Homo sapiens: one gene and its partners. The protein of the gene in region 3 interacts with the protein of the main gene of each other region in a pairwise test. Each region holds a gene or a part of one and is shown on either strand. Other genes may lie near its edges. The genes, in order: FAAP20, ZIC1, KRTAP8-1 and POU6F2.

What was found.
Region 1: the proteins of KRTAP8-1 (region 3) and FAAP20 interact in binary tests that used the Homo sapiens proteins (3 or more experiments, as listed by UniProt).
Region 2: the proteins of KRTAP8-1 (region 3) and ZIC1 interact in binary tests that used the Homo sapiens proteins (3 or more experiments, as listed by UniProt).
Region 4: the proteins of KRTAP8-1 (region 3) and POU6F2 interact in binary tests that used the Homo sapiens proteins (3 or more experiments, as listed by UniProt).

The regions. Positions count from the first base shown.
Region 1 is NC_000001.11:2,191,772-2,199,755, reverse strand, and holds the start of FAAP20 (Fanconi anemia core complex-associated protein 20), read left to right. Parts: upstream 1-4,983; 5' UTR 4,984-5,006; coding exon 5,007-5,068; intron 5,069-5,622; coding exon 5,623-5,758; intron 5,759-5,845; coding exon 5,846-6,117; intron 6,118-6,780; coding exon of another isoform or gene 6,781-6,898; exon of another isoform or gene 6,899-7,984. UniProt on the Homo sapiens protein: Component of the Fanconi anemia (FA) complex required to recruit the FA complex to DNA interstrand cross-links (ICLs) and promote ICLs repair.
Region 2 is NC_000003.12:147,405,120-147,412,367, reverse strand, and holds the start of ZIC1 (zinc finger protein ZIC 1), read right to left. Parts: upstream 3,004-7,248; 5' UTR 2,256-3,003; coding exon 1,274-2,255; intron 1-1,273. UniProt on the Homo sapiens protein: Acts as a transcriptional activator. Involved in neurogenesis. Plays important roles in the early stage of organogenesis of the CNS, as well as during dorsal spinal cord development and maturation of the cerebellum.
Region 3 is NC_000021.9:30,812,178-30,817,806, forward strand, and holds KRTAP8-1 (keratin-associated protein 8-1), read right to left. Parts: upstream 1,098-5,629; 5' UTR 1,044-1,097; coding exon 852-1,043; 3' UTR 520-851; downstream 1-519. UniProt on the Homo sapiens protein: In the hair cortex, hair keratin intermediate filaments are embedded in an interfilamentous matrix, consisting of hair keratin-associated proteins (KRTAP), which are essential for the formation of a rigid and resistant hair shaft through their extensive disulfide bond cross-linking with abundant cysteine residues of hair keratins.
Region 4 is NC_000007.14:38,980,893-38,987,917, reverse strand, and holds part of POU6F2 (POU domain, class 6, transcription factor 2), read right to left. Parts: exon of another isoform or gene 6,412-7,025; intron 3,669-6,411; exon of another isoform or gene 3,513-3,668; intron 3,042-3,512; exon of another isoform or gene 2,997-3,041; intron 1-2,996. UniProt on the Homo sapiens protein: Probable transcription factor likely to be involved in early steps in the differentiation of amacrine and ganglion cells. Recognizes and binds to the DNA sequence 5'-ATGCAAAT-3'. Isoform 1 does not bind DNA.

The DNA of each region.
Region 1 (7,984 bases), on a different chromosome or scaffold from region 3:
CAGGGCCAACCCTAACCCAGTATCGCCTCATCCTGGTTTGATTATATCGGCACAGACCTTGCTTCCGAGCGAGGCCACTTTCTCAGGTACTGGTGGACATGAGTCTTCGGAGACGCTGCTCAACCCACAGTGCTCCTCCAGCTTGGTTTCTGTGACTTGCCTTCCCCAGAGGAGGGGTGCCCTGAGAGGTCTCCACTCCCTGACCGGCTCCTTGGTGCCGCGCACTCTGAGAGGCTTCCCAGGGAACAGAGCACACAGGACCGCCCTCCTGGGTAGACCAATCAGCATCTGAGCTCACAATTTCCCAGCAGGGCAGTGGGGTGGAGAGAGAAGCCTGGGCTGGGCTGGGCTGGGCTGGGCTGGGGAAGCTTCTCCGGGCGGGGGGACGTCAGAGCAGGATCTGGGGCTGATAAAAGCCCGCCCCTGGGTGGGGGCTGAGTGGTGCGGAAGCTGAGCCCGACACGTGGGGATGGAGGACAGGCTGTGGGAGGGTGTGAACCGGATACTGCTTGAAGGGGTGCTGGGGACTTTGAGAGAGGGCGGCTGGCCCTGTCTGGTCGGGGATGCTGGCCCAGACACAGGCCATGGCTGGGATGGGGTTCAGAAACAGGACCGCTGTCTCTCCCGGGCCAGGGCCCTCCCCAGCTGCTCCTGGCTTTCTGGTTCTTGGGGTCAGGGGCAGGCCTGTGCCATGACCCCGCCACTGAGGCTGTGAGGAGGCTGTCGGTGCCCAAGGGCACCAAGGCACACCCCTACTCTTGCACCCCATGTGTGGGCCCGAGCACCTGCTCTGCTGCCCCAAAGATCTGGCGATGTTTCCCAGGCAACTGTCTCTCACAGCCTGTCTGCCTGGCACTCCCGTATCCCATAAATGCCACCACATCTGGCTATGGGTGGGCGTGCCTGCCTGGCATCCACGGGCCAGCAGGTGTGGTGGAGCACAGCCCAGTTCCTGGCTGCGTCAGAAGGCTGCCCGGGCCTTTTGGCTGTCCTTGCCAGCAGGTGAGCACTGCCAGGGCACCGTGTGTGGGTGCTGGGCCATTTAGCCACATGGGAAGGGGTGGAGGCAGCCCAGTGCCTTCAGCATGTGCCCAGGGTGCCTGTCGGCCACAGGTCTCATTTGGAAATTGGGAGGGTGCACGGCCACCGGGCTGCTTAGGCCTGCCAGCCTCAGGGCCCGTCACCGCTGTCTTAGCCTGATTTGCAGGGTGTCAGCGCTGGGCAGAGATGAACATTTGGGTGACTCTGAGGATGCCAGTGGCTGGGACACTTGTTCTTCCGCGGTGGAAGGAGTTGGAGAGGCCTGGCTCCCTGACCTACGGCCAGCCTGGCTTCTGAAACCAGCTCAGTGGGCTGGGGCCTGATTCATCATCCATAAATGTGTCCTTTTTTGCCACAGAGGGTAAGGGGCCTCCTAGCCCACCGGTCTGCAGGTGCGGGAGTAGGAGATGGGTGGCTCTGATGCCCCCACCCACTCGATCACCTTCTGCTCTGCCTGGGATGCAAACTCCCACAGCTGAAACGTTCTTTTGTAAACATGAATTTTGGCTTAGAAAAAACTCATTTCCACTGTGCACGTGTCAGTCCCAACCAGAAATTATTTTCCAATAAAGCAAAACTCCGTCACCACAGCAGCAGATGGCTCCGAAGAAGTGGAGCGTTTTCATCAGGTTCAACTTTGAAACCTCCACCATCACCATCACCAGCACCGCTGTGTCATGCTGATAACTTGAGGACAGGCAGGACAAGGTATGTTTGTTGGAGGTGAACATGCTTCCTTGTCTTGAGAGTCTTGAGTGGCCGGTCCCCTTCCAGGCCCTCGGCTGGCAGGCAGCTGTCGGGAAGCTGTCAGGCGGGAGGGGATTGGGGGTCAGGCTTCCTGACAAGTGGAGGCACCCGCCACGTGCCCAGAGCAGAGGTCACCCCAGTGCCTTTCTCTGTGGACTTATCTCTGGCTGTAGGTCACAGGGGCCTGCCCCACTGCCCCCTCCCCAGTGGTGACATGGGAGGAGGGGAGATTAATCCAGAGCAGCAGATAAACTGGAGGGGAAGAGCCCCCAGGAGGACAACTGTGACACGTTGTGCTGCCTCTGCGTCCCCAAAGCACCAGGCCCAGAGGCCCTGCCTTCTGCCCCATGGCACTGGCCTGGGGCCCTGGCTCCTCTTCCCTGGTGGCCAAGGGTAAATGAGGCCCACTGGGGTGGCTAAGACTCAAGGGGATGGGGGCCCCCCAGCTTCAGTGATGCGGGCTGGAGCCAGGCTCAGCCAGCCCTGAGGTCCCCTGCAGGCCCGTGCCTCCTACCCTTGGGGCACCCGCAGCGAGAGCTTCCCAAGCAGCCTGCGCCAGCCGGGCAGCGCAGGTGTCCCGGGTCTGGGTCACTTGAGACCCCGCCCTGCTTCTGCTCGGCTCTGCCCCTCTTGGGCCCAGTGGCCAGGGCACCTGCATGGGGGAGCCGGGAGGGGCTGGAAGGATGCTGAAGACCCCAGCAAAGCTCTAGTGTTTGGCTTTCCAGGGGTGGGGGCTGGGTCCTCCCGCCCAGAAAGGCCCCTGTTCTGGGGCAGCAGCCACACACAGGTGTCCCTCACATGGTCCTCCAGGACAGGGCAGGGGCCTGAGTTTCCCAGGCTCTGCCCAAGGGACCCAGGCAGGGAAGGAGATGGGTCCCAGGGGGCTCGGAGCCCATCCAGAGGCCGGCCGGTCCCATGGCAGGAGGGCACTGGACCATGTGGGGGCCATAGAGGAGGAGGAGGCAGGAGCCACCCCCGGGTCCAACAGCAGAACCCTGGGGTTGGGAGCCAGAGTGGGGAAGGGAGAGGAAGGAGCAAGAACACCCCCCACCACCCCCAGCACGGCACAGAGAGCTGAGCAAACACTTGTCACCAAGGGCTTTTCTCCTCTGTCTTTTTTTGTTTTTCGAGACAGAGTCTTGCTGTGATGCCCAAGCTGTTGTGCAGTGGTGCGATCTTGGCTCACCACAACCTATGCCTCCTAGGCTCAGGTGGTTTTCGTGCCTCAGCCACCCAAGTAGTTGGGATTAAAGGTGTGCACCACCATGCCCGGCTAATTTTTGTATTTTTAGTAGAGATGGGGTTTCTGCATGTTGGCCAGGCTGGTCTCAAACTCCTGGCCTCAAGTGATCCTCCCGACTTGGCCTCCCAAAGTGCTGGGATTGCAGGCTTGAGCCACCACACCTGGCCTATTTTTTTTTTTTTTTGAGTTGGGGTCTGGAGTGCAGTGGCACGATCTTGCCTCACTGCAGCCCCCACCTACCTGGGCTCAGGTGATCCTCCCACCTTAGCCACCCAAGTAGGTGGGACCACAGGCACATGCCACCATGCCCAGCTAATTTTTTATTTATAGAGACAAGGTCTTGCCATGTTGCCCAGGCTGGTCTCAAACTCCTGGGCTCAAGCAATCTGCCTGCCTGGACCTCCCCAAGTCCTAGAATTGCAGGCATGGGCTGCTGGGCCTGGCCTTTTCTCCTGTCTTGGGAGGCTGGGACCAGTCTTCCTGGAAGTACCCAAGGCCCTCCTGCAGACCATGGTGACATTTCCAGGAAAGACCCAGAAGCTCGGAGCTGAAGCCAGGGCAGCCAGGACTGTCGGGGAGCCCTGGACACTGGCTGTCTGAGAGCGCTTGGTCAGCTGGCACCTGCCATGTGGTGGACGTGGGGCTGCAGAGACCCCACGGCTGGGCTTCTCTCGCCTGAGAGCAGGCCCAGCCACAGGCTACCTCCCACAGGGCCCCCTGAGACCACACGGCCTGCAGCAGCTCCCCCAGGCCCCCTCCCCCTGCCCGGGCAGCACTCAGCGCTGCATCTCCATCTGCTCACTCAAGTCGAAGGGCCTGGGGGTTGGTGCCTCCATCTTGTTCTGCTGGGGGCCTCCAGCATCTAGAGCAGGAAGGTGTGCGGAAGAAAACCACTCATGCAGGGAGAGGGGGACCTCCCAGTCCAGGCCCTGCTGCTGACCCTTTCCCTGAACACCAACCTATGGCCTCCAGGCTGGGGCCCCTTGAAGGACGGTGGGCCACTCGGGTGGCCTGGGTTCAGGGCCGGGCTCCACAGCTGAGTTCTGGAGGGAGGGCACAGACGACTGGGGGCTGGGAGGGGCCAGGTGAGGGGTAGGAACAGCCAGGGAGCCCTGCAGGAGGGGTGCCCAGCATAGCCCCAAAGCTGCTGGGGCTGGGCAGGGCAGAAACTGCCAAGGAGTCCCAGAGCCCTGAGTGGCGTCTGGCGAGGGCCCCTGACCCTGATCTCTGTAGACCCCACTCCTTCCGTGAGGGTGGCAGCCACTCCAGGGCCCAGCAGGGCCAAGGGAGAGGCAAGTGGCCTGGGCCCATGGGGCACTGGGCACAGCCAAGTGTGGCACCAGGGTGCCTGGGCGGCTGCTGCCACCACGTGGCCGACTTTGAGGTCGCAGAGCCCGGGGTCCAGGCAGGAAAGCCCCTCAGCTGCCCCCAGGGCCCTGGCCCAGGCCCCTGAGGCCCAAGTGAGCCACCTGGACTTTGTCACTTCGCCTCTGGTTTCTTGGTTAAGGAGCTTGAGTTCCCCGCCTTTTGTAAAGAAACGGTGGTGGCGACGGCGGATTTCAAGCTTTATTTACTCCTGGAATGGTCCTGGGAGGAGAGGCGGCTCCGCAGAGCCGGAAACGGGGGCGGGAGCTGTTGGGTGCAGCCGGGAGGAGGCAGTGCCGGGGCGGGCCGGGCAGCCATCGGGGTAACGGAGGGGGCTCCGGCCCGGGGGCTGCCCGGACGGGAAAGGGGACACGGGCGGGGCTCCCCCACCTGGGCCCCCCACCCTCACGCCAGGCCCCCCTGTGCGGTGCAGGACGAAGGAACCCTGGCCTCAGTTTCCCTACAGGCTGGGATCAGGGCCCCTGGGGTTCCGACTGTCTCGGAGGGGGGCGGCCTCGCTGCAGAGGTCTGGAGGCGGGGCCGGGGCGGGGGCGGGGCCTGGAGGGGCGGGGGCGGGGCTTGCGCTCACTTCCGCCCGGCGCGGGCTTGGATGGAGGCGGCGCGGAGGCCGCGGCTGGGGTTGAGCCGCCGGAGGCCGCGCCCGGCGGGCGGGTGAGGCCGGGAGCCGGGCGGGGGCGCGGCCGGTTTTCCCGCTCCCACGTGCTTCCCGGCGCCCCCGCGGGCCTCCCGCTCTATTCTCCCCCTGGGGAGGGCTCCCTGCCCCCGGGCCCGGCCCCCACGCCCGTCGCCCCACCCCGCGCCGCCATTCAGCGCCCGCCTTGAGCCCCCACCCCACGCCGAGCTTCCCCCGCGCCGCCCCAGGCCCTCCCGCGCCTCTCCCATCATCGCGTCTCCCCTGAGCACCCCCCATCTAACCCTCTACCTTCCCCAGGCCCTCCGCAATCTCCCCAACCATCGCCTCATCCCGCTGAGGACCCCATATTTCCACCCACCCACCCCGCTCCCCCACCCCCAGTACCCCTCATCTCCGCACTGTCTGCCCCAGCAGCCCTTCCCCCAACCCTGCCGGCCACCTCCCGCACCATCGAATTTCCCTCTAGTACCCCCCATCTCCCCGCTCTCTCTGCCCCAGGCCCTCCCGGGTCTCCCCACCATAGCGTTTCCGCTACTGAGTACCCCCTGTCTGCCCTCTCTGTCTGCCCCAGGCCTTCTGGCGGCCGCCCCTGGTTTCTCCTGGGGGGTGATGAGCGGGAGCGGCTCTGGGCCGAGCTACTGCGCACGGTGAGCCCGGAGCTGATCCTGGATCACGAGGTGCCTTCACTGCCCGCCTTCCCAGGACAGGTGTGCCCACTGGGCCCATCTTAGCGATGAAGGGGTTTCCAGGGCGGGAGCCATCGCTGGGCAAGGCCCAACAACTCTGTGTTGCAGGAGCCCAGGTGCGGCCCGGAGCCCACTGAAGTCTTCACTGTCGGACCCAAGACCTTTTCCTGGACACCCTTTCCGCCGGACCTGTGGGGCCCGGGCCGTTCCTACCGGCTGCTTCACGGGGCAGGAGGGCACCTGGAATCCCCCGCCAGGTCCCTGCCCCAGCGCCCGGCACCTGATCCCTGCAGGGCCCCCAGGGTGGAGCAGCAGCCGTCTGTGGAGGGTGCCGCGGCCCTGCGCAGCTGCCCCATGTGCCAGAAGGAGTTCGCCCCCAGGTGAGTAGGCCACCCCTGCGCCCGGCCCGGTTATCCATCCGTGTTTGGAAACCACAGCCGTTCAGAAGGTCAAGAGGTGGCCGAGCTCAGCGCTGGCTTTTAAAGCCCTGTTTCACACTGGAAAGGTGGCCCAGTGCTGTGGCCTGGCATGTCCAGGTGGCTCTCTGTCACGGGTCTGGGGTCCACCTGCTTGCCGTGCTCTGTGGGCAGGGCAGGCTGGGGGCCCACAGAACAGCACAGAAGGAAGGCTGGGAGCACTGGCCCCGGGTCCACCTGGCCATCCTGGAATCTGGTGGCACCAGCGTCCCCAGGCCCAGAGCACAGGAACACCTTCCCGAGAGTGCGTCATGGGTTTTAAAAATGAAGATCGTCTTTTTTGTCTGGAGATGCTTTTTCTTATTTTTGAAACCCAACGTATATTTTTATGTATTTTTTAAGTAAAGGGGAATGGAACCCAGTTTTGCTAACAAGATAACCCAAACTGCCCAGTGCCTGGCCTTGTGTCTGGCGACCTCTGGGCCCTTGGCCTCCGGAGCAGGTCCTGGGGCTGGGGTGGTGTGAATGATGCTGGTTCGTAACTTTTGGTTGAGTTAATGGGCGGCAGGTTTCAGAGCTTATGGAGACCAGGTCCTTCAGTCATGCCTGATGCCCCTGGTCTTCCAGAAGCAAAAACAGCTCGGGAATGCGAAGGCACCGGAGTCCAAAGTTGGCAGCCAACAACAACAACAACAAAAGAAAAGGCCGGGCACGGTGGCTCACGCCTGTAATCCCAGCCCTTTGAGAGGCTGAGGCAGGTGGGTTGCTGGAGCCCAGGAGTTTGAGACCAGCCTGGGCAACATGGCAAGATCCCATCTTTACATGCCTGGGCGTGGTGGCGCGTGCCTGTGGTCCTAGCTACTCTGGAGGCTGAAGTGGGAGGATTCCCTTGAGCCAGGAATTGGAGGCTGTAGTGAAGTATGATTGCACCACTGCACTCCAGCCTGGGTGACAGAGTAAGACCCTGAATCACGGACAGAGGGTACTGTTGGGAGCCCTGGGGAGAAATCCATGCTCTTGGCTGAAGCTCTGAGATCCTTGTTGCTGTCAGGGTGCTGCCCCCCGCCCCCCGGGGAGGGGCTTTTGTCTTTGCATCGCCTGCTTTTCCAGATAGTCTAAAAAAAGACTTCTGAAGACAAGGACGTTCACGAGGAAAAACTTGCCATTTTGAGCTTTTTAAGCAGTTGCTGAAAGCTTGGCAGACTGCCTCAATTTTTCCTAAGTAGGCGTCAATGAAGTCAGGTCCAGGCCTTGGTGTGTCTGGAATGCTTCAAGCACATTCGAACACTTGATCGTAAGGGAGAGCCGGTACTTTGGAACCGGAACTCACCCGAGGCTGTGGCCACCGCATGGGCAGGCTAGCTGGGGGACAAGCCCCATATCTTTGGGAACAAGGGTTTGCACAGCCACCCTGGGATGCCCTGGGACTCCTGACCGCACAGGACCCCAGCAGGGAGGCCGCCTGGATTGGAGGGTCTGGTCTAACAGCCGGACTTGGTCTTGAACCGTCGCCCTGTCCCGCACAGGCGCCTGCTGAGCCTGGAGCCCTGGCAGAGGCGGGTCTGGGGAGTGGAGCTGCCAGGAGGCCTCCCATTTCTCACAGCCTTGGTGTTCTCCGGGTCACCCAGAGGACCGTCAAATGCTGGATTTGACAAACTATGTAGAATGTTCTTTGTGTCTTTAAGATCTTCTTGTGGTCCTATTTGGACATTTTGTGCATTTTCAGACACCTGCGGGTCACGTGGGTGGATGGGAAGCTGGGCACCTGGTGAGGGGTGAGGATGTTGAGAGCCAGAGCTGCGTTTTGTCTCTGTTGATGTGGCGAGGCCCT
Region 2 (7,248 bases), on a different chromosome or scaffold from region 3:
TTCTTACATCTGCAGTGGAATTATAAATATCTTAACTCTATTGTAATCCCTAATACAATTGGATCTACATTTTATTTTTATGTTTAAAAAAATTAATAGTAGGAGGAGTCGGTTTTTAGCATCAGATCTGGAAACTCGTATTACCCAGAGCTACACACGATTTCGGATTGCTTCCACCTGGCTCCTGGTTTCTAGTTTTCACGTTTGCGGCTTATTCTCCTGCCCTATTGCTTTTCTCTCCTCCCCCTGCCCCCTCCCCGACGCTCCGCATCCCCTGGTCGCCTCCTCCAACCCACCCCACTCCCTACATACACTCACATTTTATAGCGTAATCTGGGCCGGAGAGAACTCAACGCCGCAAATTCTTCCCTGACTCGGGCGTTAAACCCGAAGTCTCAAGCATGGTTCTCAGATCTCACCCGGGAAAATCAGAATAGGAAAGGAGACCCAGTTCCCGGCCTCTTGGGGGCAGGGGGCCCAGAATGTTTTGTCTGATGCCAGGCTACAACCCTGAGCTCGTGGGAACTTTTTTTTTTTTTAACTGTTCCGGACCTGTGTCTTGATTATTTTTAAAGGCCAAAGAGGGGAATCTGGTGTTTTGAAAACACCCTCATGGAGTCTAATAGACAACAAGTTCTTCCTTGCCTTCCTCGGACTTTCTCCACCCCTCAAACCCACTCTTAAAACCAGTCACTACTAAAACTGAACTCTTCAAATATGCATAAAGCTCCAAAAGCCTCCTCAATCCCAAATTATTTCCTTTCCCCACTCTGTCTCAATTCTTTCTGTCTCTGTTTTGTTTCTTTCTACGCCCTTAACCCGGCCTCCTCAATTTCCTCAGCTCTTTCCTTTGGCAAAGTCCTCAGTGAAGTGCACGGAGAGAGATGTTGGCAGCAAGCAAGGGTTTAGATTTGTCTGCAGCCTGAGCAGCTGGCGCCTCCGCGGCTGCCGGGAGCCAGCCACTTTCTCCGGCTTCGAAAGCACCAAGGTCTCCGCCAAACCAGGTTTGGCTTCCTGTTCTCCGACCTTTTTTGTTTCTCATTTAAAAAATCTATATACCCAGCTCCTCCTCGTCCGCCCTGTGTGTGTGTGTGTGTTTTCCATAATTTCAAGCCAGAAACTAAAAATCAGCGCACACTTTCCCTGCCTGCCTGCCGGAACCTGACGCCCGGGATCCCACCGAGGCTGCGTTTGTGCGACCTGGCCGCTGACTTTCGGTTTGGGTCCCAGGCCCAAGTGGGAATGGGTAGGGGTCCTACAGCTGTTTCCGTACCTGTGTGCGTCCTTTTGTGGATCTTTAAATTCTCGGAGCGCGCGAAGACCTTGCCACAGCCAGGGAAGGGGCAGGGAAAGGGCTTCTCGCCCGTGTGCACGCGGATGTGGTTAACCAGTTTGTATTTGGCTTTGAAGGGCTTGCCCTCGCGCGGACACTCCTCCCAGAAGCAGATGTGATTACTCTGCTCCGGGCCACCTACGTGCTCCACGGTGACGTGCGTAACTAGCTCGTGCATGGTGCTGAAAGTTTTGTTGCACGACTTTTTGGGGTTGGCCAGCTGCTCGGGCTCGATCCACTTGCAGATGAGCTCTTGCTTGATGGGTTGGCGCATGTAGCGGAAGAAGGCGCCGGCGCCGTGATGCGCGGCCATGTTCACGTTCATGGGCCCGTAGCCGTGCAGCTGCGGCGCAGCATAGTGCTCCGAACGCGGGCTGGTCACCTGGCCGTACTGCTCCGGTCGCGGGTACATGTCCCCCGAGAAGCCGAGCCTCATCTGCCCGTTGACCACGTTAGGCGACGCGTGGCCGGCAGCCTGCTCGTGAAGCCCGGGGAAGAGGAGGTGGCCCGCGGCGTCCGTGTGGCCGTGTGGGCCCCCGAAGCCCCCGGCCGATGCAGCAAAGAGGCTGTGCTGTGCGCTGGCTGCCGCCGCCGCGTCGCCAAAACCCCGGTTGCGGAACAGAAAGTCCCGCGTGGAGTTGAAGGCTGCGCTGGAATAGGAGCCGACGTGGCCCGGGTGATGGTGATGGCCCAGGGCCGCAGCAGCCGCGTAGCCTGGCGCCTGCGACGTGAAGGCCGTCTGGCCGGCCGAAGCCAGCTCGTGCGAACTGGGGTTGAGCTTGAAGGCGCCCATGCCGTCGGCGAACGGGTTGATGCCCAGGCCCACGTCTCGTTCGGCCACGTCGCCCGCGGAGTGGTGGCGGGACGCGCCAAAGGTGGTCACGCCGATCGCTGGGTACTGGGGGCCGGCGTCCAGGAGCATCGTGGCTGCTCGGGGCGAGCCCCGGCCTCCCCCGCCCCCCCCACCCTCGCCAGCCGAGGAGGGAAAATCGGGAGGAGGAGGAGGAACAAGAGGAGGAGGAAGAGGAGGAAGAAGAGGAGGAGGGAGGGGGAGTCGACCCACCTCGCGAAGTCCTAGCCTGCAGGCAATGGCGCGGCGCGCCCGGGCGCTGGCCGGGCCAAACGCAAAGTAGCCGGACGGCTGCGGGCCGCGAGTAACGCAGGCTCCAGCGCCCGCCAGGCAGATTCTGCCGGCCCGGCTCGCACTTTCTCGCCGCTCAGTCTCTGCCGAGAGGGCCGCGCGTCAAGGCTGCCCGGGGAAAGGCATGGAGCATCTCAGCCCCCTAAAAAAAAACTTCCTCCTGGATTTGTAGCATAGAGGAATGTGAGCGCCAGTGCCGCGACTGCTTCGCCCTCTCTCCGCCTCGCGCAGCGCGCCCCTCCTTACTTCTCCACTAGCCCCTCGCCCTTTCTTTTCTCTCTCTCTCCTTTCTCTCACGCTCGCCTCCTCGCTCCTTCACTCTCCGTTTTTCCCTCTCTGCTTTTTGAAAAAAAAAAAAAAAAAAGTGGGTGGGGGGGTGAAGAAAGAAAGAAAAAGCCAAAGAAAAGGCGCAAATCATGCACAATATTGTCTTTTGCGGTTTATCTTCCTGGGGAGAAACTTTCACCTCCTCAGCCGGGCGGTGAGCGCGAGACTGATAGCAGCAATCATTCCTGCAGATAAATGAATTGAAAGGACGACACCGTCCCCCCCTTGATGAATGGGAGCAGGGGGGAGGTGTCACGTGCTGCCGACGCTGGCGCCCATTGGTGCGCCCGCATTCCCCCCGCCCTCAGCCGCCGCGCCAACGGAGGGCGCGCCGAGGCGCCGCGCGCAGCTCATTGGCCCGCCCGCCTCATCAATCCCAGGTATTGTAAAGCGCTTGACATCCCCTTTTGACAAACCAGGGCTGCCAGGAGTAGCAACTTTTTTTTTAGCCAAATTTTTTCCCTCTTCTCACGGAAATTTTTTTTCTTTTTTCTTTTCTTTCTTTCTTTTTTTTTTTTTTTTTTTTTTTTTGCCACGATTACTTTTCCTTCTCACAGTCATATGCATTCCTCTTCCTCCTTTGCCCTCCCGCACCCCGGCGCTGCCCTTCCCGAAACCAACTTTTCGCTGAGCGATTAGAGACTTCAGACGTCTCCGGGTGCAGCAGGCGGGGATGGGGCTAGTAAACACAGCAAAGGCACTTCCAGAATGTCCCGATTCAGCAACTTTCTTTTCTTTCTTCCCCCTTCCCCCCTCCCTTCAAGAGCAGCAAAAGAGGCTTTTGTTATTTGCTCCTTTTGAAGTTTGTTTCCCTCTTGCTTTGTCCCCCTCCTGTTTATAATTTAAGATCTTGGGAGCACACGGGCACTATGCTCTCTTTACAAAAAAATGTAATTTCTCAGTGTAACCGGCAGCCTCTGTATTTCTCGCTTTTATCTAATCAGACTTCCGGCACCACCGCACCCCCCTCCCCGAAAACACACACACACACACACTCACACACACAGGTGGATGAAAGCGCTTAAGTTCCCAGGTTATTGAGGTTTGAATTTTTTAATGGCAAATTTGAAACGTTGTTGCCAGTTTCCTTTACTTTTTCTCTCTCTTGCGTTATTTTTCTGTTTTCTGCCTTTCCGTTGTCTCCTTCGACTGCCCCCGCTAACCCTGTCTCTCCTCACTCCTGTTCCCTACTTGGGCCCCTTTCATTCAGGTAAAACTGTAAATTTCCCAACGCGCTATTGTTCCCTTGGGCTGCCCAAAGCTCCCTAGAGATCCCCGAATACTTTTTCGGTATTTAAATCCCCAATAGATAGGACCAATGTAAATTTTGTGACATTCAAACCTTTTCTAGTTCACAAATCAGTCACCCTTGTCACAGTTATTGAAATTCCGCAACTCGCCACACCAGGACGGTGGAAAAAGCGGGCGCGGTCTTTGTTGCCGACCAGGCTTTTGATCGCCAGAGAAAATTTACTTACCTTCAGATGAGTGAGCAGAAAAAGAAATAACACTCCCTTTGATTTAGTTAGGAAAATGCAGACATTTGGATTCAGTGCAAACATACAACACTCGCTTGTTTTCGCGATGCGGCCCTCGATTAACCTGTCTTTGCCTAGCGCAAAGTCTATTCAACAACTGCGCGTAGTTTCTTTTTGTCCCTTCCACAAAGAGCCATTGACTATATATTAAAATGATTGTTGAAAGGTAGGGGAGTATGGTACTTAAAAGCAGGAAAAAAAAATCCCTGTGACTCAATCAATTAAGCCGAGCAACATTTATGCATTTCAAAAAATGCACGCGGATGCGGGGGGTTGTGGGGACGAAGGTTGCATTTCTCCGCAGCTCTGTTTAAAACCCAGCAGTCCTGGCCGAGGCTTTAGCTGAAGCGTCTGCATATTCATTAGGTCTAATTATTTTCTAGTAAGGAAAACACAAAAAGCCAAGAGTCGGAATCCTTCAATTTACCCTTTGTTTCTAACTTCATTTGGCTTCTTTGCAGCTGAATCAAAGCCCTAAACTCTTTTTCCAAACAAAGAAACCTCAACTCATCCTTTCATAGGCGGCCCGGTTAGGAAACTCACCGTGCCCCAGCGAGAGGAAAATGAAAATGAATATATTTTTTGCCCTGACGCCAGCGCTGACTGCACGGGCTGGAGGAAGGCAGGGTCAGCGTCCGCCGCTCCTCGCCTTTCTGGTTTTCTGGTCTTCTCACCAACTAGATTCTCGCTTGGGGCTGGCCGGCGGGACTGCCCTTTCCATGGGCTGTGCTTGCTCAAAAGTCGGCTTGGGTATCCGGGATGATTTCCCGGTGCCTGAAGGGACCTGGCTGAGCATTTGTGCTTGTGCCGGGAAATATAAATTCGGAAAAAAAATTAATTGTTCTGTTCCCATCAACAAGTCTGAGTCTAGCAGCCCAGCATTTCCCACCAACTTTGAGTGGAATGGAATGAGGAGTGGAGGTAAAGAAAGGGCCGAGGTATCTTTAAAAATTATTGTACACTTGGTTGGAAAAAAAAAAGATATATCGGAGGCACTAAGTCTTTTTACCTACAAGGGGAAGTTGGATCCTGCTTCCCCTGGAGTTTAGAAAACCTCATCTGTATGGAGAAGTTTTCTCTAGAGGCTGTATTCCTCTCACTAGGGAGAACAGATATTGAACCCACCTCGCCCGCCTTTCAGGAAACACACGCGGGCGCACACACACACACACAACAAGGGAGGGGACCTAAGGGGGGAAGGGTAGCTGTTGGGAGGGGGAGAGGGAAAATAATTCTTCAAAAAAGAAAAGTCAGTCTTCTCCTCTCCAGTCCGTGGAAAATCCAACGGGGACGTTGACAAGAGGGTATTTTTAGGAAACACATCCAAATATACAGGGTAAGAGTGAATGTGAGAAAAAAAAAAGTTGTGGGTTGTAGAAGTTATCAAGTGGGATTTGCGGCGCTCTCTGCAGGAAACGCGAACGGCTCCAGTTCAAAGCCACATGCACCAACGTGACATATAAGCCATTAAAATATCATCCTGACGGCTCATTTCTGCTTCATCATACATTCCCTAACTGCTTCCTGAAAGCTGGAAAAGGAGAAGTGAAGGATGACCGCCTCGCTGGAACCACAAAAGAGAGGCTTGGAGGGGTTTGTGGTCCCCTCTCAGCCACCCCGAAATGATGTGCAGAAATGAGGCGATCCTGGCAACAGGTGGAGTGGGGTAAGTGCGTGAGTCCAGGGGGCAGACAGATGAGAACTGTACCTCCAGCGACCGGGTAGCAAGTACCCTCAAGGGGACCACTGGCACCCAAACCCCAGTGGGGGAAGAGGCCCAGCCAGTCTTTCTGCCCCATCTCCTCCTTCATCCTACCCCCCTCCCCCAACCGTGGATAAAGGCCCCACCCCACTGACACTAAGGGGAGGAGGGGGCCCTTCCGCAAAGGGGCAACGCAGAGGATGAGTCCATCCCTTCTTCCCAGGAGGAGGGAAAAGGGGTACAAATGGGGCTCCCACTGGCACAGGAACCAGGAGCAGTTTGTTGCCTGCCTGCCTTCCCTTCTCTCCTTGTGAATTGCCTGGGTGCCCCACCGTGGGCACAAGAATGGAAGTCGTGGCCCAGAGCTTCCCTCGCGAAAAATGAGCAAGGCGGGTGCCGGGAGGGGGCCTTTACAGGAGGTATCTCTGCTCTGCCCCCAAGGGGGTGGCTAGGAGAGTCTCTGCTTCCCCTCTCCAGGGTCAAAGCGCCAAGTTAGCCCAGATGGCAGCAAGACGATGGAACTTCTCCGCCCCAACCTGACGGCAGATGCCGCCTGAGTCCACCTCAGGGCGGCTCCTTGCCCTCCCTCACCCTGGTCCTGCCTCAGGAAGCTGACTGCTGGGATCTGCTCTCTGCGCGCGGCCAGCAGTGGGTTCGGGACTTGGCTTTCTTTATCTCCAATGCGAACAAGAGCAGCAACTAGCTCTCTGGGGAGCAGGCCGCAGCTCCTAGGATTCTGGCCCCTAGCCTAGACCCAGGGGCATTGGAAATTAGGGGCCAATGAGGAGGGAATAGAGCTGAGCTGTGAAAGAAAGCTAGGACTGGCTCAAAGGTTGGATCTGAAAGTTGGGGTTGATGAATGGCCCATGTCAAAGTCTTAGGAAAGCGGAGGGGCTTTTGGAGGGTTGCACTTCGGCCGTCACCGTCTTCAGGAAACTCCCTTTGGATTCCAAGGTCATGTTTTCCCCGCTTTCCGACAGTATTGTCCTCGCAGCGACCCACACCACTGCATGCTGCTCTTTTTTCTCCTGTCTCAGCCGCCTGCAGGTTGGGGGAGGGGTGATTCAAAGGGAGGGCTAAATGCCCAGCCTGATCTACTGATACAAACTCTATTCTGGGCACCCGGATGCTGCCCACACTTACTTCAGCCCCGAGCTGGGAAACCCAAGCTTCTCCCTCTAGAGAACAGGAGAATGAGTAAAGGCCC
Region 3 (5,629 bases):
ACCTTAGATGGTTTGATATAGGGGATTTATCCCTTCACCTTAAAAACTCTCAGATTTCCAAAGGATGTCTGTGGCTTCTCTATTACTCAATGCTCCAGCATCCTTCATTAGGGGGCATGGCACTTTAGTCTATAATCCTTAGTCCCTGGGAAAGGGAACACAGTGGATTTCATTTGGACTAACATGGAAGTGACTGAAAAAGTTCCTCCTGTGTTGGGTTTTCTTGCGGAGGAGCAGAAGTAGTGAGATGAGAAGGGGACCCCGAGCAATAAATGGTGCTCCATTGGGTTGGAGGTGGGCATCATAAAATTTAAAGAAGGTTCAAACAGGCAACCTTTTAAGTCATTACCTGCAACCCACCCTCTTACCTGCTTATCACACAGGATCAGTAATTCTTTGCTTTCTGGCTGTTCCTAATGCCCACATGAGAAAAATAAATTCACTTCCCCCCCACCACCCATGTAACAGAAAATATGCACACACCAAGAAAGGAAACTTCGCTCTAGCATGAGAATATTATACCAGCTGAGACAAATTTATTGAGATTTTGATAGACATATCCATGACTTCATCACAAGTCATGAGTGTCATGGAAAATTCAAAAGTAGCTCATGACAAGTGGGAGGTCAAATTTCCGAAAATGTCCCAGAGAACATCAGCCAGGGGAGGCAGCTTGAGGAAGCGTCTGCTTTTTCATTTTCCTCCCCTGGGACTCGAGGTAAGTTGGAAAGCAGTGTCTCTGAGGTTGATGAGCAAATGAGGACTGAAGGAGTGGATACGGGGGGAACCTGGAGATGTGGGGCTCAGCCTTCAAGGGAGAGAAGATGCTACACCTCGGGGATTTCAGCCAATCAGTAGAGAGCAAATGGCGAGTATCTCCTGTAGCCGAAAGCCCCACAGCCGTTGTAGCCATAGCCGAAGCCATAGCCCACTGGAGAGTAGGTGCTGCCATAGCCACAGCCAACGCTATATCCCAGCGGGTAGCCATAGCTGCCCCAGTAGCATCCTGGGAAGACAGCCCCGGGGAAGTTGTCGCAGAGCATGGTGTCGGGAGTGGAGGGCTTAGGTAGCAACAGAGTGCGTTTCCTCAGTGGGATGGATTCCTAGTCTCAGAACCTTCTTTATATATCCCAGCTCTGGTGGGTGGTGAAAAACACAAAGCCCTCATTTTCATTCTTGACACCAATTTACATTCTAAAAAGCTCATTAACTTGTTTTGCTCTTGCTTATGATGTCTTTACAGTGGCTTAAGAAAGCTCTCGTGTGATGCAATACAGGGAGAAGATGCCTTTAAACAAATTATTTCCCTTCCTAAAAAAAAAAAAATTATTGCCAGGACTTCAAAGCACTCTGTCTTATAGACCCCATATAACTCTGTAAGCAGGTATATAATATCAAGAAATATTCTGAGGTTGTTAGCTGTTATGCAGTCCTCTTGCTCTCTGAATTTCCACAACACACAGTTGAAATTCAATAAATATGTGTTAAATACATTAATATATAAAATAACAAATGGATAGTGAGTCTATCTCAAAATTCTCAAAATTAAAGTATGTCTTAGTATTCACCTGCTTCAAGGATTCTCTTTTTTGGAATATGAAAGACAAGTGCAATGGAACTCATGAGAAAGAGTCTTTTTTTTTTCCTCTACTACAGCTACCGTGTTTGGGAAACTGGTTAAAAGTGTAATCTTAATCATAGTCCCCTCCTAAACTATACCTAACATCACATTTCTAGAAGACTACTTGAATTAATAGTATTGAGATTTTAAAACGGAGTATTTGGATTAATCCTTGTACTGAATTGTCAAACAAATTTAATTTTTTGGCCTGAAACATATTTCAAACTAAACATTGAAACTAATAAGGTAAACACAGAAAAATGAATTAAAAAATTTATTGTAAGATTTAAAATTTTTTTTCTCTTAGATCTAATGAAACTAGATTGTCTGACAAATGTGATGATATTATAAAGGGCCAGATGACAACATGAAATCAGTTATTTCACTTTTACAATGATCATGCACCCCAGGATAAAGAAGGAATGTTATTCCTTTCTAAACAGAGAGTCAGTTCTCAAGCATGAGTTAAAGGAGGGATAAGGCTGATCAAAACTATCTTGGATCATGTAAGACCTGATATATTATTCTCAGACACCTGCATTAAGATTTCTTACAGTGGCACTTAGTAGAGAACTTACAGAACAAATACCAAAGAGGGCATATGGAACAGAAATAGGCACAGAGATAATAGGAATCATTCTAGAAGGCCACAAAACAGATATGTATTACACATGAGCTCTCCCAGATTTTACTTCATAACCCAGAGGTAACTTTGCTCCCTGCTATCAGCAGCTAGGAATCAAAGGCTGAATCCAAGAACAAGATGAGACACTTGGAAAATTCAAAACCATGCCAGTGTTCTAGCCAGCAGTAGACTAATTACAGCAGAGGCATTTTTTTTAAATATAGATATATATATAATTTTTTTTTGAGGCAGAGTCTTGCTTTATTGCCCAGGCTGGAGTGCAGTGGTGCAATCTGGACTCACTGCAACCTCCACCTCCTTGGTTCAAGCGAGTCTCCTGCCTCAGCCTCCCGAGTAGCTGGGATTACAGGTGCATGCCACTGCGCCAGGCTAATTTTTGTATTTTTAGTAGAGACAGGGTTTCAGCATGTTGGCCAGGCTGGTCTCGAACTCCTGACCTCAAGTGATCTGCACATCTCGGCCTCCCAAAGAGCTGGGATTACAGGCGTGGGCCACCGCGCCTGGCCTAAATTTTTTTATTTTTAGTTTTTGTGAGTGCATGGTAGGTTTATATATTTATAGAGTACATAAGATGTTTTGATACAGATATGCAATGCGTAATAATCACATTCTGGAGAATGAAAACACCTACAGTACCCTGCTTCGTGAGCAAACCTGGATGGCTGCCTATGGGGATTCAGTAATTAAAATTCAAACACGATATGTGGCTTATAGCTAAACAAGTTCAGGGAATTGAAATTAGATTTATTCCCAAAACATAAAGGTATTCAACCACAGATCATTCCCTAAAAATCATAGAATGATTTACATACTATTTCTACTGGCATCACATTGCTGTGTTTCATGATAGAAAAGCTGGTAATGTTAGGGAAAAAAGAAAAATTAGACAAAAAATAGCATTGTATAATGGATAATTTAAAATTTTTGAATTAATATTGCCAAAGGTCAATTATGTTGCTCTATTTAAAAGAATTCTCCCATTCGCCTACCCAATCTGACAAGATGCTAGCTTTGCCTTCTGCAGCACAAAACCTAGCTCTGAACATGAATAGTAATTAAAATATGTTGTCTTTTTTAAAACTTAAGCCCTATTTACAGAGAATGGCTTGGATTTTCTCTAGAAAGTCTACAGAAAATTCTAACAGAAGAAAATTTTAGGGAAACATATCATTTATCAACAAGTCATTTAAAAATTAATAGCGAAGTTAATCCTATATTGAGCCTATGAAAGCTTTATTCTGATAATAGGCTTATCAAAGAAAGAGCAAGGTTTTCATAAAGCCTGAAAGTATACAATGCTGAAAGCCCTTTTTCTTAAAAAGTATACAATGTAATAAATATAAAATTAAGTACAAAAGTATTTGTTGAGATGCTCAAAAAATCACAAAAAAATTAAACTCCTAAATATATAAAGCAAATATTAATAGACCTGAAAAAAGAAATAGATAGAAATATAATTATAGTACAGAGCTTCAATACCCCATTTTCAACAATGAATGGGTAATCCAAAAAGAAAACCAATAATGACACATTGTACTTGAACTTAGACCAAATGGACCTAACAGACGTGTACAGATAGTCCATCCAACAGCAACAGAATACACATTCTTCTCAAGCACACACAGAACATTCTCCAGTGTATATCACACGTTAGGCCACAAAATAAGTCTTAACAAATGTAAGAAGAATGAAATCATATCAAGCATCTTTTTCAACTATAATTGTATGAAACTAGAAATCAATAACAGGAGGAAAACTGGAAAATTCACAAATATGAGGAACTTAAACATTTCCTGAACAGCCAGTGGGTCAAATGAGGAATGAAAAATATCTCCACACACACACACACACACACACACACACACACACACACACACACACAAAACAGAAAAAAAAAACCAAAATTTTGGAATGCAGCAAAAATTCTAAGACAGAAGTTTATAGCAATAAACTCTACATTAAGAAAAATTAGAATTTCAACTAAACAACATAATTTTATATTTGAAGGAACTAGAAGAAAAAGAACAAACTAAGTCCAAAGTTACCAAGAAAAAAGGAATAAAGATCAAAGCAGAAATAACTGAAATATAATCTGAAAAACAGAAAAGAGCAACAAAACTAAGAGTTGGTTTTTTAAAAGATAAACAAAATTGACAAACCTTTAGCTAGACTAATAAAACAAGGGAAAAGACAAATAAAATCAGAAATAAAAGAAGAGATATTATAACATACTCCAAAAATATAAAAGATCATAAGAGACTACTGTGAACAATTATATGCCAAAATAATTCAATAACCTCCAATAAATGGACAAATTCCTAGAAACGTGCCACCTACCAAGAATACATCATGAATAGGAAATCTTAACAGACCAATAACAAATAATGAGATTGAATCAGTAATAAAATATCTTCCAACAAAGAAAAATCCAGAGCCAGATTGCTTCACCATTGAATTCTATAAAACATTTAAGAAGAGCTAATACTAATCTTTCTCAAAGTCCTTCAAGCAATTAAAGAGGAAGAAACACTTTCAAACTCATTTTATGAGGCCAGCATTACTCTAATACCAGTCAGACAAGGACACTATGAGAAAATAAAATGATAGGACAATATCCCTAATGACCATAGATGCAAAAATACTAGCAAACCAAATTTAAAAGCACATTAAAAAGATCATACACATGATCAAGTAGATTTACCTCTGATAAGCAAGAGTGGTTCAGCATACAAAAATTAATCAGTGTAATATACTTTACACATGAATAGGATGAAGGATAAAAATTATTTGTTCATCTCAATCGATGCAGAGAAAGAATTTGACAAAATTCAACAATCCTTCATGATAAAAATTCTCAACAAATTAGGTATAGAAGGCATGTACCTCAACATAACAAATGAATAAATCAGTAACAGTCTTAGAAATAAAACAAGAAAAAAAAGTGTTTCAATTGCTCCTATTGTTTTTAGGATAATATTTTTTAATCTTTAAACTGACCTAAAAGTTCTCAACTCTCTCTTCGTTAAGTTTTGCTGTCTTTTAGTTCTTCAAACTTCGCATGCTCCTCTCACTCTTAAGCTTTGACACATGCCGTTTGTTCTGTGAGGAATTCTCTTCCTTCCTCTCCTTCTGATCAACTCCCATGCAACCTTCACATGCCAGCTCAATCACTTCCTTTGGGAGGCCTTTCTGCCATTCCTGATTAGCTGGAGCCCATCTGTAGCATAACAGTAGGCCAACCTCTTCCTCGTATCTGTAGGACTTAATCGTAGTTCCTATATAACCTTCACTTGTGTGATGGGTATCTGTCTGCCTCATTAACATGCTTATTTCCAGGAGAGCAAGATAGTATTTTTAATCAG
Region 4 (7,025 bases), on a different chromosome or scaffold from region 3:
AACACACCTACCCAATGGACAGTTCCATAGGCTCAATTCTGGAAGTCTGTGTAGGGAAAGATGGCATGGTCAGCTCACACTCCCATCTTTTATTCAAATATAAGATTTCATTACCACCTACGTTACTGTCTTCTTAGTATATGTGAGGTGACGTAATTAAAGAGAACGAGCAGAGACATATCCTAAAAGAAACGTAAAACATAACTTTTTACATTCTCTGGAATATTTCAATAATGTACACTTTGTCTACCTTCTCAGAACCCTAAATTAGTAGAATTCAAGAGCTAAGTCTCATTACATGTTTTTATTTAGCCCTGCTTGTGACTGCATTATTTAACTTATGAATCAGGGTTGAAGGATTGGTCTGACAATATGAAATACAGAAAACAGAAATTTAACTGACATTAATTACCATGAATTTCTTCTGGTCTCTTTTTCACTAATCTAGATACACTAACTGAATCATGCATTGGAAACATACATCTATGTCAATTATCTTAATAAACAGCATTGAGGCTCATGAAAGAAAATAACAAGCATTTTGTTCAGTTGAGTTTGGTGGCTTGGAGCAAACATAAAGGTTTTCAAGTCACAGTGTGTCTGACTGAGAACCAGCTCTTTACGCCATTCTCTGTCATTCTTACCTCTTTGTTACTAAATAAAATATTGTGATCTTTATTGCTATTTTAATTGGTTTGAGTATTCAATATATAGATGATAAGTATCTTTTCTTGTGGCATAAAGCTACTCTTCACTTTTAACATTACACTTAACCTTCTCTCAGGAGACACTATTTATGAGTTCTTCTGCTCAAACAAATCCTATTTGGAAAATTCTGAAATCTTTTATGTTAAGAGAAATGAAACTTCTCTACTTGTTAGACTGATTGCAGAGACTAACTTATTTTTAAAAGCTAGATCAAGAGAGAACTGGTTAAATAAATCACTGTATATCCATAAAAGGGAGTACTACAGAGAAGGATGCAGATCTATTCATAGTCACATGAGAAGAGGTTCAAAATATTTTTTATATGTAAAAGTAAGTTGCAGAACTCTATGTATAGTATAGTTCTACTTGGGTTGTGTAAGGATTGCATATACATGCACAGAAAATCTCTGGAAGGATATATAAGAAATAGTTAACAGTGGTTATTTGTGGCGAGTGGAATCAGGATACTTTACTTTCCACTTTATATTATTCTGTGCTATTGCAATGGTTTGCCATATGCAGAAATTACTGTTATAATTTTTTAGTAAAAAATTCAAAAATACTCATAGGAGTCTACCATGTAATTAACTCACTTCAATCACGTGCATATAAGAATTGCGTTCATGTACTGTCACTTTTACTCAGATGTTCCACTCTCTGCCTGAACTAGCTGTTTAAATTCTATTTGATAAATAAAGGTAGAAAGGGAGAAAGCAATTGCAGTTGATAGGTTTCAGCACTAGTACAAATGGCAGTACATTGCAAACCAAAGAGCCCCCCTGTTTTTGGAAGGAAATAACCACAATATTCATACGTTTGCAGTTTTCCAATCGACTATGTACTCGAATTCTTACCACAAACTTGATGTTTAACAGCTGCAAAGTACTACTCAGGAGGCTGAGGTGGGAGCGTCTCTTGAGCCCAGGAGTTCACAGCCAGCCTCAGCAACATGGCAAGACCTCATCTCAAAACAAAAACAAAAAAGTTGCAAAGTATTTTTCCATTCTCAACCAAGTTGAGAGGAGTATTTTAAGTAAACATCTGTCATAATTTTTTCAGGTACTAAGATTGAAAACAGAGACAAAATATTTTTAGATTATTAGAGGTTAAATAGTCAAGTATTCCCAAAATGTTTAAAGTATGTCTGTGAGTGTGCGTGTGTGTTAATGAATTAGATTGCTAGACTGCCTCATTTTCATTTTTACTCTAAATTCTTTCGTCACTAGGAATCTAGATATAGGTTTGTTTACAAATGAAAAAAGTTTTCAGAAAAGAAATCACAACTTTAGTTCTTGAATTGAGGATTAATATATTACCTAGGAACAATGTAGGACTGTTTGGGATTTGAGCCATATTAGCCTTCGTTCCCAGAAACCTTCTGAATATTACTACAAACACCTCTTGTATTAGCAGTTCTAGAAATACACCAAGAAATGCACCTAAGAATGTGTAAAGACTCACTTTGTTCAAGAAATATTGAAACAGAGAAAATGAATACAGCAGAGATTTACTTTTAAGACCCTGGAACACCATCTGCTGATATGAACAGAGAGAAATTTTCAAACTTGGCATTCTTATATCACAGCCAAACTTTCACAAAATCTCTTATTTTTCTCAAATTCTGACCTAGGGCATTTCATCCCACAATCATCACTTCTGCCCACCATTCAACCAGCATCTTGTCAAATCTGGCTGCAAGATTAAGTTTCCCGATTCGGAATTCAATATTGTAACCCTAAGGATATAAGATTCAAGCTGGAACATTCTGGATTTTTTTTTAATGGATAAAATTGTTTCGGCCCAAAGACCAGAGTTCGCCCTGACCATAATGATGAATCATCAGGACTGACACTAAGTGAAATGAGTTTGATGTTCTTGTTTTATTTGTGCCCATTAAGCAGCATTTTACATTTGTCCTAACTCTCAACCTTTTGGAGAAAAGGTTGAAAGAGGCTTGTTTTCTAGTATTATTTAAGACTTACAAAATTAACTAGCTGTGTCTGAAGCAAGTTTGGCGTGCCATAGTCCCTACTATTGTGTGTCCAGCTCCATTCTTGCCCATTCTGCCCTTCCAATTTGGAGGAAAAGAACTGAAGAATTAAGAAATATCTACTTTTCTCATATTTCCTCAGTATCAATTACGGCTTCTGGTATCCTTGCTTCTGTCTTGGTACAATATTTACCTTTTACTCTCAACAAAAACCTACTTCCTTTAAAAAAATCTGTATATGAATTCTGCACTGAAAACTAAGCTCCCTATAAATGTTGTGCTTTGTTCTTTTGAACAGGAATTTGCCTGAGTTCTGATCAATGCTAAAAACACCATTTAACAGGTATGTATTCTTTTAAAAATATACCTGTTTCTCTAAGTTTTTAGATGTTAGAGATAAATATTTTCTTCTAAAAATAGTTTTAAATTATTCATCAAAAATCAAAGTCATAAAATATGCAGGGTCAACATCATATTAAACTCCAGAAATAATAAGTACTATTTCACAGCATCGGAGCACTGGCTAACCTCTTGTAAAAACTCTAAAGATTTAAAGAAAAGTTTTCCTTAATATTGAAATTTGTGTACAGCACAAGCACTGTGAGGCCTTTTCTTAGACTTTGTTTTTTAATTCTAGTTTTCCTGTGCTAACGTATTATTTCACTGTATTTTTTGTGTGTGATTTGAATTGCTAGGTGAGATGAGGTAAGCTTACAAAATAACTTAGAAATATAAACTAAAGAAGCAAGTATATTGGTGAGTTTTCTGCTGCCTTTTTGCTTTGTTTTGCTCGAGGTCTTGTCTCTCTTTCCAGTGCCCTTTCCTGCCTGGGAAGCCCACAAAGATTTCGCTTTTCACTTATTACTCATCAAACTGACTCTGGTTCACAGTGGAAAAGAGAAGAAAAGCTGATGGAGAAATGGCAGTGAAGAAGGAGAACAAAATGTCAGAGCAATACTTTTGAGCGACTATATCCTTTTCATTAAAGGTGTCAACACGTTTATTTGCATCTTTGACCCTAGGACTAGGGAAGTGCTGGAAATTATGTGGGTACTTTTTCCCATGGGAAAAATGTACCTCCTGGGTCGGGGGAAGGCTGAAAATAGGTGAAAGTGAGAATACTCAGTTGATCTTCAATTTTTTTTGTCTTATAATTAAAAAAGTGCTGTTGAAAGGAATAGGGTTGCATTTCACCTAGAATCAGTGCCAAGTATCAACAGCTAATGTCTGTCTTTTGAAGAAAGAATCTTTCATACCATGGGGGTTTTAAAGCTACTGATAAAACAAAAAGCTATTTTCTGAAGACCAGCCAACCTGAAAAACAAGTGTTTTAAAACCTAGAGAATTTCCTTTAATGTAAATAATCAAAGATGTTTTCAATTATTTTGCTATTACTTACATACAATGGTTTTACGTTTATGAGAAGTGCTATCCCTGAAATAACAATAATATGATCATTTATAAGTGGGGTGTGGAAAAATAACACAAGCATACAGAAAACCAGGAAGGAATTTTTCCAGTAAAAATTAAGCAATATTCACCACAATTGGCTCACATTGTGGAACTGGGAAGAACAAGAAAATAATAAAAAGAAAAATAAATCTTTACTGAAATGTAGTGATAGTGTTTCACTCGCAACCGCTTCTTCAAATTGAGATGCAGAAGAAATGTGTAAAAAGCAAAACTGGTACAAATCTTGATTACAATTTTGGATCAGTTTAAGACAATATGGCTCAACAGAGCAATTTACATAGGCTAACAGAGCAAACTTGAGTTGGTAATTTACTTTATTGGATACACATTTCACCTACAAAAAAAAAAAAAGAAAGGAGGGAGGCAGGAACAAAAGCAGAAAGGAAGAAAGGGATGTAGGGAGGGAGGGAAGGGAAAAAGAACATAAATCCAGGTTTGAGATTATATATAGAGCAGCTATTATCTCCCAAGTAAAGATTTGGCCATAAATTACAAATTAATTTAGAAGTTGTGTAATTTGGATTTTCTTTTAGCGTTCAAATTAAAGTCAATATTTATCTTTTTGCACATTGTTTCTTCAAGTCTGATCCTTTCATGTTTGCACTTTATGTCCCAACTTTATTTTCTACTCAATCAAGCATTAGAAAAGAGTAACAGCTTGTACAATATCACAATGCAATTGAAAAGTGAAGTTTTTCAGTATTTGCAGACATGTTAATTATATTCCAATTTTTGTAAGCAATAAAGAGAAAAATACTTGAAACTGGTAATATGCAGTTTACATAGCAAAGAAAAGGTCAGTGAAGAAACATCCTTCACTGACCTCTGAAACAAATATTATAGATTTTACACGCAGGAAACTTATTACATGCAAACTTTCTTTTGTAAGCATTTGTATTCTAAAAGTTGCAGCCACCTCTCTGCATATGTTAGAGGTAAGAATAAAAAAGTTTTAAGTTCTTAAGCATTGAAAATGATAATTGAATGGTACAGAGAGTTTCATTAATTGACCTTAGAGATAGAAAAGAAAATTTAGTTTCAAGACCCAAGTTCATCTAATTGTTGTTTAGTATTAACATTATTGGATAGTAGTATTACTATATTGTTAAATTTTACTTAAATGGACAAAATTGACTTTACCATTTAAATGTCTGCTTTAATTTTTAAAAATTCTAAACATAATAAAAATTAAGTCCATCTGGTGAAATGTAAAATGTTAACATAAGACTTTCCTATAAGTATGAATGAAATATTAAGTGAAGTTTTTTAGGTCAATAAACAATACATAGTACAAATTCAATTTTGGTCAGTCTGGAACTTACCAAAAGAATACTAGCACCAGTATGTATAAGAAAGAATAATCCTTAATTAATCTGTATTTTTTCTAGTATACCATCCATCCATAATACCTTGGGGAAAAAGTATTCTCAATAAAATTAAAGCAGTAATAATTTCACACTCCCAAAATACATAAATTTGTTGAAGCAATCTGTCAGTTTCAAAAATACAGGCATTCACACCCACAAAAATGACTTTTTTTAAGAGTATATGGGAATTATGCTTCACATGAGTAAAACAGGGTTAGGTTAGCCCCAGTGTTTCATTTTTATATGTAAGGCACGAATATCAGTCTAAATTGACAGAGGGCAATCTTCAAATGTGTTATGAGAGCCAGTGTCCCCTCTCCCTAGACCACTTGCATCACACATCAATTTGAGCATATTTTAGGTAAGCAAATTATTATTAAATCTACATTAAATACTTTTTGGAACAAGGGATGGTATAAACAAACCTCTATGTAAAATTAATTGTTTTGATGCTATAACGGTGAAATATTTGTGTGTTTTAAAATCTCCATATAAGAAAACATACATGGAGATACTGTTAAGCCAAATGCATGCACACATACTGAGCACTGTCTGAGACATTTGCATTAGTTTTCTGATGTACAACTTTACAACACTTCACATGGTCGAAATGTACTTTGAAAAATAAAAGACCCATTGTACCAGTAAGGGAAATTGTAAACAGCTTTTTACTGCACTTCTAATGCTATTAAAATATAGAATGTGTGGTCTCTTCTCTCTTCTACTAGTACTTTAGCAATGTCAACTGGAAGTGCATCCATGATCACTTTATCCAGCTGTCTCTCTCTCACTCCCAGCAAACTCTTAGATATACTTGATAAATATTTTCATCTAATTTGGTTCATCTGTTGTTTTTATTAACAACTAATTTAATATCCTCTGTTCTGCAATATTTGCAAAAGTCAGTCTATAGACGTGAAGCCAACAGGGACCCTCAGGCCTGTGCATCAGGATGGTGGGCTGCCTAAGTCCTCTGGGGACAGCAGTGCCAGAAGGAGTATTGGACACAGTGACCCGACTGTATGAGATGAGAAAAAACAAAAACAGGAGGTCCGCAGTACTGATGAACTAATCTGTCACTCACAAGCTCAGGTCTGCAAAAAAAAGAAACGAAGCACTAAACATGGCCATAAGAGATGGAAATGCAAGTCTTCATTTCTAAATGATAATCAAACCAACGATCAGAAACTGATTAACTGTGTAATTGAATTGAATTGAAAATCATCCCATGAATAACAATCCATCCTACCTTCAAGGGGTTAGGAAGCTAACTACAGGTAATTGCTATCAGAAATCTGATTTGATTTCCAAAAATTGTGTGAATGAACCAAGTTTCTTCATCTTGATATACTAGGCAGGGAGTTTGTTCTTCCAAGTACTAGACTGCTTAATTGCTTGCTTGGGGGAGGAGAAATCCTAGGGGAAAGGCATATATGAGCAATTTCTACTCTGTGAAGCCAGCGCTGTGTCCTGAGCTGGATCATGGC